6 separate regions of the Homo sapiens genome follow, and regions 2, 3, 4, 5 and 6 are each linked to region 1. The links come from fine-mapping of genetic effects on gene expression. A gene starts in region 1. Each other region holds a variant in brackets. All regions are shown on one strand. Distances are from middle to middle.

Region 1 (4,083 bases):
AGTCCGGGCGAGGACAGGGCGGGGTTGGGTTGGGCTGGGGACTGTGCTGCAGACCTCTTGGGCGGAAGCCCCGCCACCTCTTCCAGGATGTGGCAGAGCCGGGCGTCCTCGCCATTCTGGATGGCCCACCGCAAGGCCTGGATCTCCAGTTCTCGCTGTCTCCACAGCAGCCGCAGTGTGCGAGGGTCCAGGGACTCAAGAGCCAACCTGCAGCGGCAGCAGACCCTGCTGCTTACTCAGGCCGGCCCCTGGCCACCTGGCCCAGGAGGCTCACCAGTCCTCCCTCTCCTCCTTACTGCGGGTCGGCAGAGCAGACCACCGGTGCGGGGTGGGGCGTGGTGTCTGGCAGGCACGTGGGAGTCTCGGGGGCTGCAGGTGCGCCTGCTGGAGGTCCCAGGTGACCACTGACCGACTCTTGCTCTGTGGGGGACAGGAGAGCCTCTTCCTCGGTTTCTTCAACCTCCTGGCCAGACTTGGGGGCCATTCTCAATGTTCTTCGGGAGCTGGGAGGGGTGGGGGGCCCGTCTGCCGTGTGCGCCTCGTGTGGCCACACAGGTTGGAGCAGCCCAGGCGTCACCACTTACTCACAGAGCGTTGCTCTCTGAAGGGACCCACATGTGGGTGTCCACACCCGTGTGTTTCTGACCAGGCTGGCGCAGCAGGTCACCACCCGACATGTCCCTGGCGTGTACCCCTGCCACCCAGGTGCTGGCCCTTTGCCTGTGATGTGGTGTCCCTCTTTCTCTCTCTTGTCCCCCCAGCTCAGGGCCCTACCCCCAGCACTCACCTGAGGCCCGACCTCCAAGCAGGCCTGGGAGGGAAGGGCTGTATACCGTTGCCATGGATACCAGCACCCAGAAGGGGTGGGGCTGTTTGTTACCAGGAGCCTCCAGGGAGACCCCAGACCAGGCCCCTAGGTGAGTTCTGGGCCAGCCCAGCCTGGAGGAGGTGTGAGAGGCTGAGCCACTGCTCAGCTTAGCGGGGGGACCACTTAGTGACCAACACCCTGAGGGAGGCCCCAGCATCCCCTACCTAGCCTGGCAGCAGCAGCGGGATAAATAGGGGGGCACTGCTGCCTGTGAGCCAGCCCAGCATAGCCATGGGTGTGTGGGGGAAGCAGACAGGTAACAGTGACAAGCTGGGGACTGTGCTGAACGCTAACTGGCAATAGTACACTCCTGCCCACAGCCTGTTTTTAAATTAATAATTAATTCTTTAGAGACAGGGTCTTGCTCCGCTGTCCAGGCTGGAATGCTTCGGTGTGATGACAGCGCACGTTAACCTCGAATTCCTGGGCTCAGGTGATCCTCCCACTTCCGCCTCCTGACTTGCTGAAACTACAGGCACCCGCCTCCACCGCCAGGCCCAGCCCACAGCTCCTTTGACCTCAGTGACAGGCACTCACCTACCTGACCCCCAAACTGAAGCCTCACTTTTCCCAGCCGTGTCCACACCCTCTGGGCTACCCCATTACCATGACAAGTATTCCCTCTGCTCCAGGAGAAAAGCCAGGTCCCAGACCTGACCCATTAAAACCCAATCATTCCAGCTTTCACCCTTCATCTCTGCAACTTTCGGCTATGTAAGGGCTCCCTGGGGGAGCACAGGAGACAGGCGGGCAGGAGGCCCACGCCCACAACTCTTTCTGAGCTGGGCAGAACAATCAATGGCCCACACAGCTGACCGCGAGGCTGCGGGGCCCTGGGCGGGACAGTAGGGTAGGGGGTGAAGGAGCGGCTTCCAGCCAGCTTCACTGTGTGCATGGCCTGGCACTGGGTCCAAAAGGGGCAGGAAGGTGTCGGAGAAGAGCCTCAGCTAGAGTCCGGGCCTTCTGAGCGGGCACCTCCCGCACCAGGACTCTGCGCCCGCCAGCTCCGCAGGGCTCCACCTCCCTCGCCGGGACTGGTGACCCTGCGACCCCGCGACCCCTGCGCGTCCAGACTACTGCAGCTGCGGTAGGCCCCAAAGGCTGGCCCGGGAAGCGAGGGGAGGGGCTGGCCCCGCTGCCCCTGGACGCAGGCGGGGGTTGCGGGATCTCAAGCCAGAGACCCTTCCTGGGCGGGAACCCGCCACACTAGAAGGCTGCTGAGGAAGTCGGCCCAGGAGCGGGGCCAGACACCTACCCCGACGCCTGCCCGCGGGCCGCAGCCACCGCATTTCCGCGTTTTTCGCGGTAGGCGGGAGGTGGGGGCGGGGACTGCGGCTCGGCGCCCCCCTCCGACCCGCCCACACCTGTAGTCTCGGGGGGGGCGGGGCGCGGCGACGAGCCAATGGGTCGGGGAGGGGCGTGACAGAGGCAGCCAATGGGCGCGGGGAGGGGGCGGAACGCCCGCGCTGAGCAGCCAATAGGGGTGCTAGGGGCGGGGCGTGCGGACCGCGGGCCAATGGGGGCGCGGGGCCCGGGTGCGCCGCGGCGCTGGGGGCGGCAGGTTGCGGCGGCGCCGGAGCGGGTCTCCAGGCTGGCGAGCGCCCAGGTGAGCCGCGCCGGGTCCCCGGTACTTGGGAGCGCGGGGCGCGCCTCGAGCCGGCCGGACGCCGACTCCAACTGGGGAGAGTTTTCCGCGATGCCCGGACGGAGAGCGGGGGCGGCGCCGCACCTGCGCCCGCCCTGCGGAACGGGGACGCCCTGGCTCCCGCCAGGCTGGGGTCGCGGCGCGGGCTTCGGTGCCCGCGGCGGGGACCGGGACTTTCGGGGCGAGCGCAGCGATTAGGCGGCAGCGGCGGGGCTCCCCGGGCTGGCGGGGGCTGCTCAGACCCGGAGTCTGCTCCATCTGCAGGGTCGAGGTCTGGGTTGCGACCCCGAGCGCCTCTGCGGCCTGAGCAGGTCGGGGTGGGGCGTTCCCATGCCGGCGGCCGCGGGGCCTGGCGTGCGGGCGCCTCCGCGCCGCCCGGGGAGGGGGCAGTGTCCTCCGAGCCAGGTGAGGCGAGTAGGAAATGCTGGATCTGGTTAATGATTCGCCTTGTTCCGGGAGTGCGAGCGTGGCAAGAGGAAGCTGGTGAAGTGGGGGAGGATGCGTGCTCCGGAGGGCCGCCACCCCAGGAATGTGTGGCTGGCGGGTGGGGCTGGCACAGGAGGGTGGGGCCCGTGCGGAGGGGCGGCAGCCCAGCCGTTTCTAGGGCAGGCCAAGAGGATGAGGAGAGGAGGACCAGCCTGCGATAGGAGTAGGCAGGTCCTGACCCGGTGCCTGCGCCCTCCCCACAGGACAGGCATGTTGTTGGGACTGGCGGCCATGGAGCTGAAGGTGTGGGTGGATGGCATCCAGCGTGTGGTCTGTGGGGTCTCAGAGCAGACCACCTGCCAGGAAGTGGTCATCGCACTAGCCCAAGCAATAGGTGAGTCCTCTCGGGGTCAGGCAGGCCGGGCAGGTAGAGCTGAAGTGGGACCTGGTGGTCCAGCTCCATGGTCTCCCCCAAGGAGAGTGGGGCTGGTTGCTGATCCTTTTTGTTCTTCCCAACTCTTCAAGCCAGGTGGACAGAGAGTCGGGGGGACATAGGCTGACCTTCTCCTCTTCTTCCCAGGCCAGACTGGCCGCTTTGTGCTTGTGCAGCGGCTTCGGGAGAAGGAGCGGCAGTTGCTGCCACAAGAGTGTCCAGTGGGCGCCCAGGCCACCTGCGGACAGTTTGCCAGCGATGTCCAGTTTGTCCTGAGGCGCACAGGGCCCAGCCTAGCTGGGAGGCCCTCCTCAGACAGCTGTCCACCCCCGGAACGCTGCCTAATTCGTGCCAGCCTCCCTGTAAAGCCACGGGCTGCGCTGGGCTGTGAGCCCCGCAAAACACTGACCCCCGAGCCAGCCCCCAGCCTCTCACGCCCTGGGCCTGCGGCCCCTGTGACACCCACACCAGGCTGCTGCACAGACCTGCGGGGCCTGGAGCTCAGGGTGCAGAGGAATGCTGAGGAGCTGGGCCATGAGGCCTTCTGGGAGCAAGAGCTGCGCCGGGAGCAGGCCCGGGAGCGAGAGGGACAGGCACGCCTGCAGGCACTAAGTGCGGCCACTGCTGAGCATGCCGCCCGGCTGCAGGCCCTGGACGCTCAGGCCCGTGCCCTGGAGGCTGAGCTGCAGCTGGCAGCGGAGGCCCCTGGGC
Region 2 (4,083 bases), 36 kb after region 1:
TTTCAAGGCAGAGTCTTGGTCCGTCATCCAGGCTGGAGTGCAGTGGCGCCATCTTGGCTCACTGCAACCTCTGCAGCGAGTCACTGCAACCTCTGCAGCGAGTCACTGCAACCTCGGTTCAAGGTTCAAGTGACTGTCCTGCCTCAGCCTCCTCAGTAGCTGGGATTACAGGCACATGCCACCACACCTGGCTAATTTTTGTATTTTATGGAGAAACGGGGTTTCACCATGTTGGCCAGACTGGTGTGGAACTCCTGGGCTCAATTGATCCGCCCACCTCGGCCTCCCAAAGTGCTGAGATTAAAGGCGTGAGCCACTATGCCCAACCTAGTTGTAGTACCTTCTAACAAGGCTCTTGGGAATGTTTACAGCTTAATTAAAATTTTTTATTATAAATTACATTTACAAACTTGATATATTGATTTTCTTTCTACCTACACTACTTGAATTACTTGGCAGATAAAACAACGCAAGTACATAAAAACCCTGGTGGATCTAAAACATTAAAACTGATCAATATAACGATTCTCATACTTCTAAACATTTCCATACTGTTACAATTTGCAGTCTGCCAAATTTTCAGTTAAGTCTGACTTAAAAATCACACGTCTAAAATTACTCAGTTCCTCATGTCAAAATGGAATCACAGTAGGCCGAGGCGGGTGGATCACCTGAGCTCAGGAGTTCGAGACCAGCCTGGCCAACATGGCGAAACCCCGTCTCTACTAAAAATAAAAAAATTGGCCGGGCGTGGTGGTTCACACCTGTAACCCCCGATCCTTGGGAGGCTGAGGCACGCGAATACCTTGAACCTGGGAGGCGGAGGTTGCAGTGAGCCGAGATTGCGCCACTGCACTCCAGAGAGACTAAAAACAAAAAACAAAAAAACACTATCTGTAGATACACTGACATTACATGAAATAAGATACAGTTTCTGATTTTTTTCTTTTTTAAGTTACAATCTAATTTAAAAGTGTGTGTTCACCAGGGAGGCAGTGCAGGGGCTCACTGAGGCCTGTTAGGTGTGGCCCTCCCCTCCCTGGGCAGGTCAGATCTGAGCACCTTCAGCTGCAGGGCCACCAAGCTCCCTGTGCAGGTGGAGCCATGGGTGCCTGCACCGTAGCTGGGCAGGTCTCGGCAGCCCTCCTTGTCCCCGTGCTCGTATTTAAACTTGCAGCCAATCTCCTCTTCTCGGGGATGAGTGTGGGGGACACAGGCCTGGCCTGGCTGTGGATGGGCGCCTGCCAGGCGCAGAGGGGCCTTCTGCTCGGGCCTCAGGTGAGCCGCAGCCTCCTCCAAGGCTGCTGGAGCTCAGTGGTGGGAAAGTGGGTTGGACGTTTTCAGACTTTGGAATTCTTTGAAAGAAGGTACTGCTCATCCTTGCCTTTGTCCCCAGAGAACTTGTATAAGAACAGATGTTAGGGGACCTAGTTAGGCTCTTGGAGTGCCCCCACCCGCCGCCCCCCTCTGCTGGCCTGGCAGGGCGTGTCGTGTGCCCGGGGCAGTCGGCTTCTCTTCCTGCATGCCTGTCTCCTGTCTTTCTTGTATGGCCCTAGCAAGGGCCACACAGCAGACACCTTCTCATAGGTGCAGGACTCTTG[G/A]GAGAATGGGTTTACTCTTGTTTAACTCGTATCTTAGATCCTAGAACAGTTCAGCCCGTGGTAAGTGGTAGTTAAGTTCAGTTGAATTCAGGCTCAATTTTCAGGGAAATCATCAGCTTGACTCCCTTCCCTTGATTGTTTTTGCCTTACTCAGGGCTGTCTGGGGTCTTTGGGATGAAGTTTCAAGGATCTTTGCATAGACTCCCGAGCCTCGGCTGCTTGGAGGGGCACATATACCTCATACCAGTGGCAGCACTTCCCAAACTACCTTCCCAGAAGGCTCGATAGAAACAATTAAAACATAGTTTCCTTTCAGCAAAGAAACCTTCGCCTTCTTCAGTGGCTTGGTGTGAGGTGCAATGTTTGAAAACCCGGGAGTGAGGGTGGGGGAGACAAGCTCTCTGGGAAGGGGGCCCCACAGGCAGCACCTACCGCAGGAGCTCAGTGTGAGCCACTGTCGGCCTGTGGGTGTGTGTCGTGTGTCGCAGCCAGCTCAGTTGCTGTCAGGATACCACAGGCTGGGCAGCGTAAACCGCAGGTCTTCCTTTTCTTGGTTTTGGAAACTAGACATCTGAGATACCAGCAGGCCTGGTTCCTGGGGAGGCCCCCTTCCTGACTTACAGACGGCCGCCTCCCCGCTGTGACCTCACCTGGCCTTCCCTCATCTAAGGACACCAATCCTATAACCTTAAAGGTTCCATGTCTATCTGCTGTCACATTGGGGGTTAGGGCTTCTTATGAATTTTGGAGGGATGTGGGTCAGCCCATAACAGAATGCATCGCAGACTTGGGTGCCATCGGAGGCCTGCTTTGTGGTCCCCTCACTTGAGGAGGTTTGGGAAAGCTGTGAGCAGCACCCGGATGCTTTGGCCCTGCTCTCTCCTGTAGGTACCACATGGAATGCTTGGACCCCCCTCTCCAGGAGGTGCCGGTGGACGAGTGGTTCTGCCCGGAATGTGCTGCGCCTGGTGTTGTCCTTGCCGCTGGTAAGGACACTGCTCCCGTCCCAAGGCGCACATGGGCCTTCTCACTGTCCACTCTGCGGTCCCCGGGGTTAGGTTTGGCTGCTGTGTGGGGAGGACATCTAGGGCTGTCTCATGGGGGTTAGGGTTGGCTGCGGTGTCGGGAGGACATCTAGGGCTGTCTCGGGCTCGTCTTCTCGGGGATGTGTGTGGGGTCCATTGGCTGGGGGGTTCCGGTCCTCAGTGTTAGGAGCACCAGGCTCCATGAGCAGCCCTGGGTCCTGTGCACAGGTCAGCCCGAGCCAGGGCTGCTACTTGGCCGGCAGCCACAGGGGGAGCCGTTGGGGGAGGCGTGTGGCCTGTGAGTGTGGCACATCAGCCCTGGTGGTTCTTCCCAGATGCGGGTCCCGTGAGTGAGGAGGAGGTCTCCCTGCTCTTGGCTGATGTGGTGCCCACCACCAGCAGGCTTCGGCCTCGAGCAGGTAGGACCCGGGCGATAGCCAGGACACGGCAGAGTGAGAGAGTGAGAGCAACCGTGAACCGGAACCGGATCTCCACGGCCAGGAGGGTCCAGGTGGGTGGCCCAGCCCTGACGCCAGTCGTAGAACCCCAGCTGCCCAGAGTGATCTCGGCAGTCTGGGTGGGTGGGAGGGGCGTCGTCGGCACTGTGGGGTCCGCCCGGCCCCGGTGGCTCATGTTGTTCGGCCTGCTGAGGGGAGCAGATGAGTGCACCCCAGGGTGACCCCAGCGGCCCAAGGTGGGGCTGCCTCTGAGCACCTGGAGCCAGGTATTGAGGGGCAGGTGAAGCCTGGCCCTGGCGGGGTGGGGGCTCTAGGAAACCCCCCTTGTTCCCCAGGCCCCATGCCAGCACCGCTCCCTCTAGGCACCTGTGAGCACCTTCCTCTTGCACTGGACCTGGTGCTCGGTTTCAGGTGCTCCCTGCAGCCTCCGTCCTGACAGCAGCCTTTCCCTGGGCATTGGACAAGCAGGAGGGTCTGGGCTGTGGGCATGTGGTGTGTGCCCTTGGCAAGCCTAACGCTGAATTTGGAGTGGACTGAGAAGGCTGGGTGGGGAGGGGGCTGTCCCTGTCCAGTGCCCTGCCCAGTACCTGCGCCACCCCCGCCACAGTGACTGGTGCCCTCTCGTGTGCCCCTGGGATGCTGTCTGTCCCCCACCCGCCTTGCCCCCGTGGGAGTGCTTGGCAGCCTCTGGCAGGGGAGAGGAAGGCCGGGCCGTGGCTGCTGCAGTGGCGGGTGGGGAGGCTGTCCTGCTTCTCTGGCTGCCATTGTGGGCTGTGTTCTGGGCTCCATTTGGGGTCTGTGCTGGACCGGCTGAGGCCCCAAGGGCATCTGACGGCACCACCCCTTTGCCTGTAGCACACACCAGGGCGCCTCGGGTCTTCCCTGCTGGATGAAGCCATCGAGGCTGTGGCGACTGGCCTGAGCACTGCCGTGTATCAGCGCCCCCTGACGCCGCGCACTCCCGCCCGACGGAAGAGGAAGACAAGTAAGCCTGAAGGG
Region 3 (4,083 bases), 120 kb before region 1:
CTTGGGGGACCTCCTGGCAGGCTGGGATGGCAGCAGAGACCACAGCTTTGCCACTTTGGCAAAGACAAGCGAGTGAAGTGGTGGCCGAGGACCTGTGAGCTCAGATGGGGCAAATCCAAATGGAACACATTCAGATCTGTGTGCAAAATGGTGGTGGCTTAAACAAGCTGTGTATTTCTCCTATAAGTGAAATCTGGAGTTGGCCGGGCGCAGTGGCTCATGCCTGTAATCCCGGCGCTTTGGCAGGCCGAGGCGGGTGGATCACCTGAGGTCAGGAGTTCGAGACCAGCTTGCCCAACATGGTGAGACCCCGTCTCTACTAAAAATACAAAAATTAGCCAGGTATGGTGGTGCACGCCTGTAATCCCAGCTACTCGGGAGGCTGAGGCAGGAGAATCGCTTGAACCTGGGAGGCAGAGGTTGCAGTGAGCCAAGATCACACCACTGCACTCCAGCCTGGGTGACAGAGTAAGACTCTGTCTTTAAAACAAAGCAAAACAAAAATCTGGAGTTGGCTAGTCCTGGACTAGTATGGCCGAACTATAGTCATCAGAGACCCAGAATGCCTTCAGCTTGTTGCTCTGCCACCTTAAATACATGGTCCCAGCACCTGGTCCAAAATGACTGCTCAAGCTCCAGTCATCACATCCACGTTCCAGCCAGTGGGAAGAGGAAAGGGCGAAGGAGGGAACCTCACCCTTCACATGGTTAGTCACGTGACCACACTCTATGGCAAGGAAGCCTGGGGCATGTGAGCTCTTTTCCCATGGAAGAAAGCAGGGTAAGCGGGAGAGGGAACATCCGGCAGTCTCACCAGGGGGTCACAGCTGCCAAGTTAGATCTAGTTCAGAAACAGAATGTGCAAGGCTTGTTGAGTATGGGAGGAACTCACACGCAAGATCCACGTTCCCAGCCCCTGCACCGTCCGTGACGGGTGTCGCTCCCCAGTCCCCAGCTCAGCCCGCTCAGGGGTCTCTGTGCTCATGTTTTCACACTGTGTTAAAACAATCTTCGGCTGGGTGCGGTGGCTCATGCCTGTAATCCCAGAGCTTTGGGAGGCAGAGGTGGGTGGATCACGAGGTGAGGAGTTCAAGACCAGCCTGGCCAAGATGGTGAAACCCCATTTGTACTAAAAATACAAAAAATTAGCCAGGCGTGGTGACAGGCGCCTGTAATCCCAGCTACTCAGGAGGCTGAGGGAGGAGAATCATTTGAACCCGGAGGGTGGAGGTTGCAGTGAGCCAAGATCGTGCCACTGCACTCCAGCCTGGGTGACAGAGTGAAACTCCGTCTCAAAATAAATAAATCAATAAATAAATAATAAAACAATCTCCACGTTTTCAGTGTGTTAAAACAATCTGCTAGCAGGTCATGTGAGTTACTCAGGCGCCACTTCAAGTGTCCACACAGCTGCTGTGCTCTCTTTCAATGACTTTTTCAGCATTCCCAGTTGCGTTGCAGAAACACTGTTCCTCCTCCCCCCACACCTTCCGTGGGCGTCACCAGAGGAATCCTCAGTCACTTCCAGAGTCCTGGCTGTAAAGCCAGCATATCCAGCTTCAGGGGAGAGAGCTCAGCGAGGCGGCTGCATTGGCCGCTGGCCTCACCCAGCGTGGAAGTTCCCTTACGATCAGTGAAGGGTGGAGAGGGAGGGGGACCCCACCCAGTCCTATCTGGACAGAAAACCAGTACAGCCCTTTCAGAAAGCAATTCAGCTATAATACGTATTAAGAGCCTTAAAATTGTTTAGACTTTGGTTCATTAATCTAACTTTTTGTAAACTGTTCTAAAAAAATGCAAAATAATGAAAATATGTATATATGTCATTTGCAGCAAAAATTGTAAACCACCAATGTTCAACAATAGGAAAATATCAGCGAAAACATGGTATTCATATTTATATGCTGATTAAGCAGACATTAGAAGTTATACTTTCAAAGAGTTTTTGAGAACATAGGAAAATGCTTATGTTATACTGCTAAGTAAAAAAAACAGACTACAAACATATAAAAATTTTTCCTAGATTAAAAGAGATTTATTTATTCTTTTTATTTTTTGAGACGGAGTCTTGCTCTGTTGCTCAGGCTGGAGTGCAGTGGCAGGATCTCGGCTCACCACAACCTCCGCCTCCTGGGTTCGAATGATTCTCCTGCCTCAGCCTCCCAAGTAGCTGGGATTACAGGCATGCACCACCACGCCCGGCTAATTTTGTATTTTTTGTAGAGACGGGGTTTCACCATGTTGGTCAGGCTAGTCTTGAACTCC[C/T]GGCCTCAGGTGATCCGCCCGCCTCGGCCTCCCAAAGCGCTGGGATAACAGGCATGAGCCACTGCACTTGGCGGAGATTAATTTTTTTTTAATGTTCTTTTACTTTAAGTTCCAGGATACGTGTGCAAAACGTGCAGGTTTGTTACACAGGTAAACGTGTGCCATGGTGGTTTGATGCTCCTATCACAAACATGTATAAAATGTTTATGTAAACGTAGCTAAGGGGCATTAAAATATGGGAAGAGTAGACTGATATTTGATACTTACATTTGCTTAACAATGTGAACTAAGGATGGGGTATTATGCTTTTCTTCATTATGTTTGTTTTCAAATATTCTAACACAAACACATCACACTTTAATAAACTTATTAAATTTGCTTTATTTTTCCACATTCAAGTCTATTATTATAAACTTTATTTCCCCCAGACTCAGCTTGACTCTTGGCTTCCGGGTTTGAGTGCAGCTCCTGAAGAGGCAAGAGTTTGGCCTGGACGTCCTGGCAGGTGGCCCTGCCCTGCCTTGGCAGAGAACTTTGGTCGAGGTTCCCCGTGGGCCTCCTGCTCTTCCTCTGTGGACCCTGGACCCTGTTCCTCTGCCTTTCCTCCTCCCACTTCAGAAGACCCCGTCCACCAGACCGCCTCCCCCTGAGGCCCAACATGCAGCAGAGGCAGCTCCTCCGTCCCTGCAGCCTCCTTTTAACTGTGGGATATGGCAGCCACCCGTGGAGCGGTCCGGGTGACAAAGCCAGCGAGAGCTAGGGAGCGCCCAGGTGAAATCCCACAGGCAGGTGTGAGCACCAATTGTCATTACCTTTGCCCTGGGCCCCTCAGAGACCTGTCCTCCCCCCCCGCCCCCAACAGCCTCCTGGGCGCGGCCACAGACACAGACACAGTGTCTGGACGAGCAGACTCGTCCAGGCACTGCTCAGAGGCAGCCCCTCTGGGTCAGCTGGAGTCGGTGCCTCTGAGAACCTGCCCCTGTACTCTCTCTGGGCTGGTCTCAGGCACCCTGCTGGCTCCAGCCTCTCTTGGCTGACAGTGCTTGGCAGGCGACCCCCAGCCTGAAGCCCCTGCAGGGGAGACCCTCTCCCAGCTGGGCCTCTGCCCTTGAGGACCACCTGAAGCCATCCTTGCCTGCCACACCAGGGTGGCATTGGGGTGGGGACCCAAACCCCTCCCGTCCTCATTGCAGGGACAACTCTGTCTCCTTGCTGCCTCCCCAACACCTCCAGGCCTTAACCATCTTGACTTGGGGAGCAGTCCTGCTGTCCACGCTCCCTCCAACAAGCCAGAGAAAACTCCCGGGCACAGGTGTGCGTGTGGCACGGTGAGTTTTTCTGTAATCCACTCACCTTTATGGATTTACCGCACCAGGGGAAATATTACAACAGGCATTTGTTACTTTACAAATTCCTAGGCTTCCTCTCCCTTCCTTGCAAGGGCATTTTTAGAAAGCATTTCGCCAACATTCACTATTTACCACCATAAATGTGACTCTGGCCAGCTCTGTCCCTGGGTAAGGCCAGAATTGACCATTTTCTTAAAAGTTCCAGCGCCCTGAGGCTTCTGGCAGGCATCTCTGCAGCTGAGGAAGGCTTCTGTCCCGTGCACCCTTCCCCAGGCGGGGGACCCCCAGTTCTGCTGCTCTGGGGCCTCAAAGAACCAAGTCCTCCAAGCTGCTCCACTGCCTCCTCACCAGCCACGGTGCTCCCTGAGCCACAAACCTCCGGCCTCACCCCTGCCCCTCAGGCCCACGTCTTGCAATGGACTCTGCCAGTCCACACATGCCTGGGTGGGGAGGGGTGTGCACTTCTGCA
Region 4 (4,083 bases), 96 kb after region 1:
TACATTCATTCACTGGAAGACCAGTATGGGCCGGGAGCAGCGGCTCATACCTGTAATCCCAGGACTTTGGGCAGCCGAGGCGGGTGGATCACCTGAGGTCAGGAGTTCAGCACAGGCAACGTTGCGAAACCCAGTCTCTACTAAAAATACAAAAATTAGCTGGGTGTGGTGGTGGCCACCTGTAATCCCAGCTACCTGGGAGGCTGAGGTGGGAGAATAGCTTGCACCCAGGAGGCGGAGGTTGCAGTGAACCGAGATTGCACTACTGCACTCCAGCCTGGGTGACAGAGCGAGACTCCCATCTCAAAAAAAAAGGGAAATCAGGGCCGGATGCAGTGGCTCATGCCTGTAATCCCAGCACTTTAGGAGGCTGAGGTGGGCGGATCACGAAGTTAGGAGATCGAGACCATCCTGGCTAACACGGTGAAACCCCGAGATTGTACCATTGCACTCCAGCCTGGGCGACAGAGCAAGACTGTCTCCAAAACAAACAAACAAACAAACAAACAAAAACAAAGGGAAATCAGCATGGAAATCTTTCTCCAAACTCCAAGGAGCTTCACTCCAGCCAGGCCAGCACAGAAAATCAAACTCAGGAGTCCACCGCTCCCAACACTCCTGAGCAGGGCTGTGGGCATCAGCCTGGGCGCACCGTGGCAGGCATGTGTCCCAAACTGCTGCGGCGGTGCCCCAGCCAACACCCCCACGGCCCCACCTGAGCTGGTTTCTGTGGTGGATTGAAAAGATGCCACCAGAGGTTTGTGTACTTTCTCCTGGAATTACATTATTGGAGCTTTTCTTTTTAATCAGCGCATAGGTCAACATGCTGTCAATGATTAATGTTTGCGGCATGACTAAGGTGCTTGACAGTTGTGAGCTCCGCCGTCAATGCTCTCTGAGACGGAGAAGACCACTGGGCCTAGGAGAGGCCTTGGCGCCGCGACCTGCACGCCCGCTATGCGCCCAGATCATCCGCAGCTGCGGGAGGGGCCGTGGCCAGTGGGTGAGTGGCAGCGTCTGTGAGCAGCACAGAGCAGCACAGGAAACGACTCCAGCGCGGCCCCACGGCCCCTGCACGCGTGCAGACCTGCTCCGAGGTTCTGTTCTGATGCTTGCCTCCCTCCTTCGCAAACGTGATCTTTAACATTTTTCCAGTTGTAAGACATTCAGAGCTCCGACATTCAGTCACTCACTTCAGAAAACAGGAGCATTAGGAGGAATTTTGGTGCTAATTTAGGTTGCCCCCTGCCTCTACTTTATTTATTTATTATTATTATTATTTTTTTGAGATGGAGTCTCACTCTGTCGCCCAGGCTGGAGTGTAGTGGCGCAATCTCGGCTCACTGCAACCTCCACCTCCTGGGTTTAAGTGATTCTTGTGCCTCAGCCTCCCCACAGCTGGGACTACAGGCACGGACCACCACGCCTGGCTAATTTTTTTGTATTTTTAGTACAGATGGGGTTTCACCATATTGGTCAGGCTGGTCTCGAGCTCCTGACCTCAAATGATCCACCTGAGTCGGCCCCCCAAAGTGCTGGGATTACAGGCATGAGCCACCGCGCCTGGCCTGTGCCTCTACTTTAAATGACAAACTTTTTTTTTTTTTTTGAGATGGAGTCTCGCTCTGTCGCCCAGCCTGGAGTGCAGTGGCACGATCTCAGCTCATTGCAACCACCACCTTCCAGATTCGAGCAATGCTTCCACCTTAGCCTCTCAAGTAGCTGGGATTATAGGCGCTTGCCACCATGCCTGGCTAATTTTTGTATTTTTAGTAGAGACGGGGTTTTGCCCTGTTGGCCAGGCTGGTCTCGGAAACTCCTGACCTCAGGTGATCCGCCTGCCTTGGCCTCCCAAAATGCTGGGATTACAGGCATGAGCCACCAAGCCCAGCCGACAAAATATTTCTTAAAAAGTCTGTAACCACAGAGAAGCTTCTCGAAGGAGAACACAGCTTCTG[C/T]AGGCTTTATTAACATTCTGGGTTGCTCTGTGGATGGCCGGGCCAGGCAGGACCCTGGTCCAGCCCCTCACAGACAGAGGTCAGGTGGGGTGGGAGGCTGGCGGGAGCGTGGTCACTGTCCCGGGGAGCGGCCCCCACGCTGAGAAGGGCACGGGTCTCCGTGTCCAGCAGTCCCTGTGCACCACACACCAGGACGTCCTGTACTTGCCCCCCAGCATAGTTCCTGGAGGACAGCACCCCTGAACTGAACGGGAAGCCTGTCCTGTTGCCTCGCAGGCGCCTCTTCAGCCTCAGCTGGGACTTTCAACCACTTGGGCCTTTCGCGGTATGCCCTTTGCAAAACTTTTTTTTTTTTTTAAACTGAAAAATAACGTTCTAGGAAGGTTAGAAGGAGCTTTGGGGTCTGAATTAGAGTCAGAGGCAGTAGCATGAACTCATGTTCTCTTCACAGATACAGAAGTGGCTGCGGAGATGTTCATACACACAGGTGACACCCTCATCCCTGCTCTGCAGCTGAACAGGTGACACCCTCGTCCCTGCTCTGCAGCTGAGGGCCTCCACGTGACAACATCCCAGCAGCACCGGACCCACCTGGCACCCACCTGGCACCCAGGCCTCACTCTCTAAGACTTCCCAATAAAAGGACCTGGGGCTCCCTGCCTGGCACCCAGGCCTCACTCTCTTAAGACTTGCCAATAAAAGGACCCGGGGCTCCTTGGAGAAGGGGCTGATTCCCGGGCCAGGGCAGGGAATGCAAGAGGAGGCTGGAGCACCCTGCAGTGCCAGGAAGTCAGGACGTACCCCAAAATGAAAAGTCTGTTGAAAGGGGTGCATCAGGGGACCCAGGAGCCGACGGCAGGAGCTCCCTAGGGCCAAGGACAGATGGTGTGCTTCACAAGAAAGTAGTGTTGCCTTCTAGCTCAGAGTTTAAAACACATATAAAATGAGCCCATCCGGATACAAACAAATGATCAAATAAATAAATACAAGTCCAAGCTATTCCAGATCCTCCCGTCTAGGAGAAGCCCCCCCACGGCCGTGGACTTGCTGCCTGACTAAATGTGCAAAGGGAGAAGCAGTCCTGTCACCAAGGAGACACCTACAGACACCTGACTCTGGTGAGGAAGGTCAGAGCTGTCTGTAATGTCACTTGGATGTCAGGGACGCCACAGTGGGGTGAGACAGGCGGCAGCACCCCTCCCTGAAACCTGTCGTCCACCCCCACGAGAAAGCACAAGACAAGCCTGGATCGGGGCACCTGGACAAACTGCCTGGCCAGGCCCTCTCAGAACTGCAGGGCATGGAAGACAAGGAAAGACTGAGAGACCGTCACAGGCCTGAGGGTGCTGGGCAAATGGTGCACGGGAGGCTGTCTCCCACAGGTGGCAGCGGGGACAAGGTCCTAGAGCAGAAACAGGACATTGATAGTGAAATTCAAAGTCCGGAGTTCACAGGGACACCCAGCGACGGTTTCTCAGCTACAACAGCCATGCCCTGTGGGCTTTGAAGTTACAGAGGGGAGGCTGCGGAGTGGCAGAAGGGACCCTCTGCGCTCACTTTGCAACTTTTCTGTAAACCTAAAATTATCCCGAAATACGTTTATTTTTTAAAATAACCATTCATTAGCCGGGCACGGTGGCTCACGCCTGTAATCCCAGCACTTTGGGAGGCTGAGGCAGGCGGATCACGAGGTCAGGAGATCGAGACCATCCTGGCTAACACGGTGAAACCCTGTCTCTACTAAAAATACAAAAAAATTAGCCAGGCGTGTTGGCGGGTGCCTGTACTCCCGGCTACTCGCGAGGCTAAGGCAGGAGAATGGCATGAACCCAGGAGGTGGAGCTTGCAGTGAGCCGAGAACGCGCCACTGCACTCCAGCCTGGGTGACAGAGCTAGACTCTGTCTCAAAAACAAAAACAAAAAACCATTCATTACTGCGGAAGAGGTGTGTGTGCGTTGCAGAAGGTTAGGACAAGACACCGCGTTTCCGCAGCCAAGGACATCGACAAGTCCCATTCTGCGCTTTCAGGAAACTGTCAGGAAATCACAGGACTGCGGATGGCACAAAGGGCAGAAGTGCCCAGGCCTGCCCAGGCGCCCCAAGAAGCTCATGCTGCCAAGCAGC
Region 5 (4,083 bases), 31 kb before region 1:
TCGGCCTCCCAAGGGCTGGGATTACAGGCGTGAGCCACCGCACCCGGCCAATTTTTGTATTTTTAATAGAAACAGGGTTTCACCGTGTTGGCCAGGCTGGTCTTGAACTCCTGACCTCAGGTGATCCACCCGCCTCAGCCTCCCAAAGTGCTGGGATTACAGGCTTGAGCCACCGTGCCCGGCCTGAAACTCTACATTTTTATCCAGGCCTCCCTGGATGGATGTTGGGAGAGTTTACGCGTGGCCTTGTGGGATCGCTGTGGCGGACTCTCAGCTATCAGAGGGCTCCATCACTCCATCGTAAGGAGGCAGCTGGTGGCGAGTCCTGAGCAGGGATGTGATCCGACGGGCAGGCGGCGCCCGGGACAGAAGCTGACGTCACACAGGTGAGTCCCCCACCTCCCCACAGGCTTCCTCCACCCCCTCGGCAGCCCAGCAGGGCCTGTCAATCAGTGGGACCTGGTCAGCTGGCTGCTAGGGGACCTCAGGCAGGGGGGCTTGTCCGCAGGGCCTCCAGCAAGGGGGGACATTCATGACACCCAGCAGGGCTCAAGAAGGTGAGACAGAGGGACACTGAACCCAGCCCTTTACAGAAGACCTGAGTCCACCGAGGAAGGGGGCCAACCCCCTCCCCGCGTCTGCATCCCCAGGACCACCCCGGGTGGAGAGGGCCGAGTGTGGTGCCTCCGCGGGTGCTCTGACGATCGTCTCGAGCCACGGGGGTGACAGTGACAAGGACCTGTGTGCACGTTAGTGGGGCAGCCAGGCCTAGCTGGAGAAGAAACACACACACGCACACGTTCACCCACATACACGTGCACACACATGCTGCCAGTTCAGGGGGTGGAGGACGCTGACTCCAGGCCCAGCTGACCTGCGCGGGGCCCTATTGTGATGTGTGCAGCCACCCCATGACGTCACCGGTGCCAAGTGCCGGCTGTGTGCGGAGCAGTTGGAGACACAGTGGGTGTCCGAGGGGGGGCTCTGCGTCCGGAGGTGAGAGGTGGGTCTCAACACAGCTGCCCTCCCCCATGGTATGGTGACAGTCACTAACAGGTGGCCTGCGCTGGCCTCCACGTGGCTGCCAAGGGCCATCCCTGAGCACTCAGCGGGTGCCTGTTCCACACGGACTATGAAAATGACTGTCTCGTTCACCTCACGGCGACCCCGTGGGGTGGATACGAACTCACGCCATTTGACAGGCGAGACGTCCGAGGTCAGAGGGGAGGAGACGGACCCGACCTTCCTTGGCTGTGCTCTCCAGCCCTGTCCTGTGCTGGACCCAACCTAACCTCTGCAGCCTCCCTGCCCTGGACACAAATCTGGCTGAGACCCCAGACCCTGATGGGGCAGAGCCTGGCACTGGAGGAGCCACCAGGATGGGCCCCTGTGGGTGTGGGCAGAGGGTGATCCTCAGTTCAGGTTTTTGCCAGAAGATGGGTTCCTGCAGGAGGGGGTCTCAGCAGCTCAGACTTCAGATGCGCTCACTGCTGCTCACTGTGGGACAGCCAGACACGGAGCCCTCTGTTCTCCAGCAGTTGTGGACAATGAGGGATCCCTGGAGGGATGCCTGGTGGGCAGCAGGAGTCCCTCTTGTGGGTCAGGGTGCGGGGATGGGCTCTCCCTGCAGGGACTTCCCAGTCTTGTCCTCTGGGATTGGCAGTTTGCAGGGGTATCCTCGGCATCAGACCAGGGGGGCCACACAGGGACCCAGATCTATGGGGCCCAGCCCCGGGAAGACCAGATGGGCTCAGTGGAGAAGCTGACCACATCTGCTTTCCTTTCAGCCAAACCGGGGAGCGTCCCGGCACCCAGGCCTCTGCGGGTAACCCCAGGCATCAAGACCCTCCCTCAAGGGGAGGAGCTGGCTCTCCCCTGCCCATCAGCACAGCTCCAGAATCCCAAGGGGTCAGCTCCCACATGGGGGCCTGGTCCTGCCACACACTGGCCTAGCTGGGCTGTCCCCGAGGCCAAGGCCTAGCGGCATGAGGGGGCTTCCGTGGAGCCCAGGGCAG[T/C]GGGCTGCTCTCTGGAGTCCCTAGGACTCGGGGTGTGGCTGGCCTGTCCCCAGATCAGGACACACCCCAGGTTGTCCAGTGGTTCCCGTGCTGGAACTCCTGTTGAAGCCACCCAGGGACCTGGATGCTTCCCACAGTTCAGCATGGAGCAGGGGTGCTGGGCCCTGACCCCTCCACGTCTGTCCTGGACACCCCAGGACCACAGCACAGGCCCAGCCCTGCAACCCCAGCGGGGCCCTGATACCAGGCCCTGCCCAGCCCCGTAATGACCAAGAGGCAGGTCCAGAGATACCTCCTGCACAGGGTCACCTGCATCTGACGCCCCCAGCAGGCAGTGACCAGCACGGTGTGGAAGGAGCCAGGGTGGCACCCGGCAGCCCTAGAGGGCTCCTGGCCTCGGGAAGTCTATCGATGGGGAAGCTGGTCACTCGGAGGCTGCTGGGGAGAAGGGGGAGTGTGGCATTCCCTGGACAGAAGGGCAAGTGTGGCGTCCCCTGGAGAGAAGGGCGAGTGTGGCGTCCCCTGGAGAGAAGGGCGAGTGTGGCGTCCCCTGGAGAGAAGGGCGAGTGTGGCGTCCCCTGGACAGAAGGGGGAGTGTGGCGTCCCCTGGAGAGAAGGGGGAGTGTGGCGTCCCCTGGAGAGAAGGGGGAGTGTGGCGTCCCCTGGAGAGAAGGGCGAGTGTGGCGTCCCCTGGACAGAAGGGGGAGTGTGGCGTCCCCTGGAGAGAAGGGGGAGTGTGGCGTCCCCTGGAGAGAAGGGGGAGTGTGGCGTCCCCTGGAGAGAAGGGGGAGTGTGGCGTCCCCTGGAGAGAAGGGCGAGTGTGGCGTCCCCTGGAGAGAAGGGCGAGTGTGGCGTCCCCTGGACAGAAGGGGGAGTGTGGCGTCCCCTGGAGAGAAGGGCCAGTGTGGCGTCCCCTGGAGAGAAGGGGGAGTGTGGCGTCCCCTGGAGAGAAGGGGGAGTGTGGCGTCCCCTGGACAGAAGGGGGAGTGTGGCGTCCCCTGGAGAGAAGGGCCAGTGTGGCGTCCCCTGGAGAGAAGGGCGAGTGTGGCGTCCCCTGGACAGAAGGGGGAGTGTGGCGTCCCCTGGAGAGAAGGGCGAGTGTGGCGTCCCCTGGAGAGAAGGGCGAGTGTGGCGTCCCCTGGAGAGAAGGGGGAGTGTGGCGTCCCCTGGACAGAAGGGGGAGTGTGGCGTCCCCTGGAGAGAAGGGCGAGTGTGGTGTTCGCTGGAGAGAAGGGCGAGTGTGGTATTCCCTGGACAAAAGGGGGAGTGTCCCTGCAGCCCTGGCCAGCCAGCGGCATGCCCTGCTAGCTCTCCCCCAACCTCAGGGATAGGGAACCCTGACAGGGCACAAGTCCCCGTCCCAGAGGGGCCTGGCCCAGCCTCAACCCGGGCCCTGGGAGGGGAGGGGCACCAGGGGCGCTGTGGGCCCCCAGCAGAAGCCAGGATGACCACACAGGGGACTGAGCTGTCTGTGGCTGTGGCCAGACCTAGAACTTGGCCCAAGGCAGGGCAAGCCCCTTGGAGCAGAGTGGGTGGCAGAGCCTGTGTATACCCAGCAAGGCTGAGCCAGTGACACTACCAGGCTCCAAGAGCAACCAGCCATGAGGCAGGCGTGGGGCAAGGGTAGGGTGAGGGCAGGGGCGGGGGAGAGTGGGGCAGGAGCAGACGGACCAGCTGCCAACCTCGTCCACTCCAGGAGGCAGGGATGGCCAGGCTCCCACGCCCTACTGGCCGCTACCCGACCACCAATGAGGCAGAGGCCTGAGGCCAGTCGGTGCTGGAGCCCTACTTCCAAGGTCCACAGACCGCTTCAGGCCACAGAGCCGAAGAAAACTGGGCATGTGAAGGCCCAGGAGGCGGGGTCCCTATGTCTGCCATTCTTGGCAGGTGCATTTCACGCTGGGAGCAAGTCAGGAAAGGTGATGCCTCTCACCGCCAAGAAGGCTCCCAGCAGAGACCAGAGCCACCGGCACAGATCCCCAACCCCTGAAACCACCTCCCTCTGGAGGACCAGGACGCCCTCCTAGTTGGTAGAAGCACAGTAAGCTCTCTGTCCTTATGATCTGCC
Region 6 (4,083 bases), 240 kb after region 1:
CTGTGGGGCCTAGGCCTGGGCAGGCTCTGGGGGCTGTGGAGCCGAGGAGCCAGGCAGAGCGGGGTCCTTGGGGGCCAAGCCCATGCGTCGGATGCTGTCCTGGTACTTGCGGCGGCCGAGCTCCAAGACTGCGCGCACCTCTTCAGCCACGTCCTGCCGGTCACTCTGCTCCAGGGCCTGCACCAGGAGCCCCACAGCCCCTGGCTGCCCAGCCTGGCGCTCAGCCCAGGAGAAGAGCATGTGACGGATCTGCTCATCCAGATCATCCCTGCAGGCAGAGGATGGGCGACAGAGGGGTCCTGTCCACCTGCCCAGGACCCCCCACCACACTCTGCCTCGGAGTGTGGGGGAGTTCCCGGCTCCTGGGGCCAGGTGCGGCCAGACCTTTCCTTTCCAGCCTGGTGTTTGCCCTTCCCCCACCTCCCCTGGAAGAAACTTCTGTCAGAATCAGGTGGGCCCTCCAGGCAGCCAGGGCTCAGCCCTGGGGCTGGCAGCCAGCGGGCAGTGGGAGCCTCACCGGAACTCGTGCCGGATGCGCTGCACCTCCCGGTAGGACACCCCCAGGTGCAGGGCCACGGCTGGCCAGTCCAGACCCAGACGCCCAGCCACACTCAGCAGGTTGCTCTGCGTCAGAAAGCCGGTCTCGGCATCTCCCAGATTCAAGGGTGCCAAGGAGAGGCCAGCCCCCCGCCGTGGCCCCTCGGACCCTCGAAGTCTCTGTTGGAAGGAAAAAGTGCATTAAGCCCTGGGCTCCACCCCCAACTCCACCATGTCACCCTGGTCACCCCTGGGCCTCGGTCCTGCCCCGCCCCTCTGCTGTCCCTCAGTCCCACCGGCAGCTTGATGGGCAGAGTGGCCATCCACAGGGCGTCTGCGCCCTTCCTCTGCCGGGCAGCCTCAGCCTCCTCGGGCACCCGCACAGGCACCGCGCCACGGTAGAAGGACACCTGAAGGGGCATCGAATGGGGTTCGGAGTTCGGTCCTCTGCCCAAGCGGCCTGGGGGGCCTCTCCCCTCACCCACTCCCCTCGCCCACCTGGCCCCGCACAGCCTGAGCCTCCCGGTCCAGAGTGGTGGTCACGTATACCTCCTTCACATTCTTCAGGTGCGAGTAGAAGACAAAGCAGATTCTGCCCTCCACACAGTCAGGGCGGTCTAGGGGACAGGGGTGGGCTGAGCAAGGAGGGCTCGGGGAGGACGGTAAGGCTCCCCCTCCAGGGCAGGGAGCATCCACCAGCATCCCTACCAGCATCCACGTCGATGCCGCGCTCGAAGGCCGCAAAGAACTCTTCGCCCTCGAACATCTCCACCGTGTCAGAGGGCTCGGGGCCCCGGTACCGCTCCAGCAGCCGCCGAAGGGTGGCGTCCACCTGCGGGGAAGCCCGTGCAGCTCAGGACCCAAAGCTCTGCACCCCACCCCAGCCCTCTGGTCACCACCCTGCTGCCCTCCGGCCCGTGCCCCCACCTTGTTTCGGGGCAGGCACTGCAGCAGGACCTGCTCAGGGTCCCGGCGCCGCTGCAGAGCGATGAGGTTCACACGGTGCAGCCGCAGCCGCTCCCAGGCCTTCCGAGCCAGGCCTCCCACACAGTTCTTGGTGGTGTACCAGAGCCAGTACCTGGGAGAGCTGGGGGTGAGGAGGGCTGTACAGACTGGGGGAGGGGGGCTGAGAAAGCTGGGGGGCACTGACCAGGAGAAGTGTGTGACCTGGAAGCGTGCGTACAGGTGGGTGAGCTCCAGGACCACCTGAGCTGTGATGTCATCCCAGGTGGCTGCAGGAGGGGCCCAGTACAACAGGTGCAGGCGGGAGCGGTCCAGACTGAGGCCTGGGGATGGGAGGGGCAGCGAGCTGAGGCCT[C/T]CTGGCCGGAGACCCCCTCCACCCTATGGCCACAGGTCCAGGTATGCCCCATGGCTGCCTCTCACCTGTGATGCCAGAGGGCAGAGGCAGCTGCACGGTGACCGGTTGGAGGAAGCTGGGGGGACCGCTCTGTGACAGGCACAGCAGGGGGCTCACTGCAGCCTCTGGTTCTCCCAGGAGGGCCTGCAGCTCTCGGCCAGCCATGCGCACCACCTGGGGCAGACAGGCCCCCTGAGCACCTGCCTGTGGGCTGAGGCGCGGCCTGCCACCCTCAGTGCTGTCCTGGCCATACCTGCATGGAGACTCGACGAGGCTCCTCAGTGGCCCCAGGGGGGAAGATGACTTTGACCCCAGGATGACCCGAGGAGCACAGCAGTGTCCCCTCCGGTGGCACCAGGCAGGCATTGGACACAGGGCGGGAAACCACAAGGAACCAGGAGAAGTGGGGCACCTGGCAGTGAGCCCAGAGCCGCTGGGATGGGGGAGAGAGGAGGTCACAGGAGCCTGGGTCAGGGCACAGCCAGTCAGGGACACAGGGAGCAGGATCCAGGAGAGACGGGGCGGGGTGGAAGGTGCCAGGGACACAGGGAGCAGGATCCAGGAGGGACGGGGTGGGGTGGAAGTTGCCAGGGACACAGGGAAGCAGGATCCAGGAGGGACGGGGTGGGGTGGAAGGTGCCAGGGACATAGGGAAGCAGGATCCAGGAGGGACGGGGCAGGGTGGAAGGTGCCAGGGTGAGGCTCTGGGCAGAGGTGCACGGCTCAGGGCAGCAGCTCTCCACTCGCCACCGGCAGGCCTGGGTGGCCCTCACCTGGGGTGCCTCTTCCTCCAGGTAGGTCTCCAGGTCACCCCAGCTGTTGTCATTCCGGGTCCTGACCACCACTTCACGGCAGCGCCGGGCCTGCGGTGGGGTGAAGAGCAGCCACAGCCCCACATCCTGCCAGACAAGGATGGTGTGAGCACTGGAGCCATGCCCGGGCCCGCACACTGCCCCTGCCATGCCCTGGCCCACACACTGCCCCCGCCACGCCCTGTCCATGCCTGCTGGAAGGCCACCCCATGGGGCTGCAGCTCCAGCACATGGCTGAGCAGGGCGTCATGAGGACCCAGGGGGACGAGGCCTGGCTCCGGCAGCAGCAGCCGATAGCGGATGGTGATGGGGGTGGCGGTGGCTCCCGCTGGGAACTGCAGGCGGACGCCACAGGCCAGGGTCACTGAGCAGCCTTGAGGGGTCACAGGAAAGCTGAGTGAGGAAGGAGCGAGCAACAGGTTAGACCCAGAAGGGCCTACGTGTTGGAGCCTGGACCCAGGAACTCTGGAGAAGGTGTCGGAGGGGCCAGAGTGACAGGCAGACAGACTCCCCTCCAGCCCCCTCAACCCACCCCATACCTGTCCAAATCTGAGGTCAGGAACAGTCTGGGCATTTCTGGAATGAGGGCTGCCACTGTGCAGGGGACAGACATGTGCTCAGGACAGTGAGGAGACTCATGTCCTATCCCAGGTCTGCCCCTTCTAGCACCAAGCCTACCTGGTGAACTCGGGGCGTCTGGCGAGGCCTCACCCAGGGGGTTCCCCTGCAGGCGCACAAAGGGGGCGTCTAGCAGCTCAGGGGGCAGGTCCCGGAGCTGGTTGTCCCTCAGGTCGAGCCGGGTGAGGAGTGGAAGGCGGGCCAAGTCAGCTGGCACAGAGGCCAGGAGGTTGCTGTGCAGGACAAGGAGCCGCAAGGACCGAAGTCCCGCTGCGGGCAGTTGCTGGCTTAGGCTTGGCACCAGCCCAGCCCACGGCGCTGGGACACTCCTGCTGCCGCCTCCCAGAGCAGCTGTTTCAGACTCTCCTCCACAGCTGGGCTCAGAGAACTCTGACAAAGCCACTGAGGGAGTCTCAAAGGCCAGGGAGGTGGAGGGACAACCAAGAGGCAGCTGTGGACCAAGCCTGTGGGTGCAGAGGCCCCTGCAGAAGACAGGCAGGCTTCAGGGACCCTCCCGTGGGGCCAGTGTGTCGGGGCGCAGGGGCTACTCACCCAGAGAGGCTGGGAGGCTCTGCAGCCGGTTGGAGGCCAGGTTGAGCTCCAGGAGGCTGCCCAGGCCTCCAATCTCAGGAGGTAGCGTGTCCAGCAGATTCTGAGAGAGATCGAGGCGCTGCAGGGTGGATAGGGCCCCCAGTGCTGGGGGCAGCGTCTGCAGGCGGTTGTGTGTCACTGTGAGGAAGGTGAGGGCGGGGAGGGCCC

Direction of the effects. Positions count from the first base shown, and alleles are read on the strand shown. Sizes are in standard deviations (SD) of each study's normalised expression. Not every link is listed here.
In carriers of allele C in region 4, the expression in lymphoblastoid cells of the gene that starts at base 2,179 in region 1 tends to be lower than with T alone (moderate effect, 0.69 SD a copy in TwinsUK).

What was found.
Region 2: its variant is fine-mapped to the expression of LMNTD2 in whole blood (TOPMed, PIP 0.95).
Region 3: its variant is fine-mapped to the expression of LMNTD2 in whole blood (TOPMed, PIP above 0.99).
Region 4: its variant is fine-mapped to the expression of LMNTD2 in lymphoblastoid cells (TwinsUK, PIP 0.91).
Region 5: its variant is fine-mapped to the expression of LMNTD2 in whole blood (TOPMed, PIP above 0.99).
Region 6: its variant is fine-mapped to the expression of LMNTD2 in sigmoid colon (GTEx, PIP 0.97).

The regions. Positions count from the first base shown.
Region 1 is chr11:558,560-562,642 of GRCh38, forward strand. It overlaps LMNTD2 (lamin tail domain containing 2), which reads right to left and starts at 2,179. Exons shown (of 14, transcript NM_173573.3): 1 at 2,124-2,179; 2 at 297-420; 3 at 55-207. The coding sequence starts at 2,157. It overlaps RASSF7 (Ras association domain family member 7), which reads left to right and starts at 2,411. Exons shown (of 6, transcript NM_003475.4): 1 at 2,411-2,918; 2 at 3,203-3,333; 3 at 3,520-4,083. The coding sequence starts at 3,210. LMNTD2-AS1 (LMNTD2 antisense RNA 1) reads left to right here and starts at 703. Exons shown (of 2, transcript NR_147607.1): 1 at 703-917; 2 at 1,220-1,547. RefSeq lists an enhancer at 3,214-3,789.
Region 2 is chr11:594,434-598,516 of GRCh38, forward strand. PHRF1 (PHD and ring finger domains 1) reads left to right here. Exons shown (of 18, transcript NM_001286581.2): 7 at 2,490-2,587; 8 at 2,962-3,137; 9 at 3,940-4,069. Among named protein-coding and RNA genes, the nearest start is that of IRF7, 19 kb to the right of the region's middle. RefSeq lists an enhancer at 1,068-1,567. The variant G/A (reference allele first, on the strand shown) is at 1,602.
Region 3 is chr11:443,051-447,133 of GRCh38, forward strand. No RefSeq gene overlaps it. Among named protein-coding and RNA genes, the nearest start is that of ANO9, 3.1 kb to the left of the region's middle. RefSeq lists an enhancer at 1-359. The variant C/T (reference allele first, on the strand shown) is at 2,266.
Region 4 is chr11:654,565-658,647 of GRCh38, forward strand. The region is part of intron 10 of DEAF1 (DEAF1 transcription factor); the gene reads right to left. It overlaps LOC124902603 (a long non-coding RNA gene), which reads left to right and starts at 459. Exons shown (of 2, transcript XR_007062543.1): 1 at 459-1,003; 2 at 2,410-4,083. The variant C/T (reference allele first, on the strand shown) is at 1,959.
Region 5 is chr11:527,952-532,034 of GRCh38, forward strand. It overlaps a transcript of LRRC56 not described here. Among named protein-coding and RNA genes, the nearest start is that of HRAS, 5.6 kb to the right of the region's middle. RefSeq lists an enhancer at 554-1,091. The variant T/C (reference allele first, on the strand shown) is at 2,016.
Region 6 is chr11:799,298-803,380 of GRCh38, forward strand. It overlaps PIDD1 (p53-induced death domain protein 1), which reads right to left. Exons shown (of 16, transcript NM_145886.4): 3 at 3,877-4,083; 4 at 3,385-3,594; 5 at 3,246-3,300; 6 at 2,898-3,099; 7 at 2,668-2,793; 8 at 2,148-2,327; 9 at 1,921-2,068; 10 at 1,688-1,823; 11 at 1,465-1,615; 12 at 1,246-1,369; 13 at 1,036-1,154; 14 at 834-947; 15 at 518-717; 16 at 1-268. The coding sequence ends at 10. Among named protein-coding and RNA genes, the nearest start is that of SLC25A22, 3.1 kb to the left of the region's middle. The variant C/T (reference allele first, on the strand shown) is at 1,856.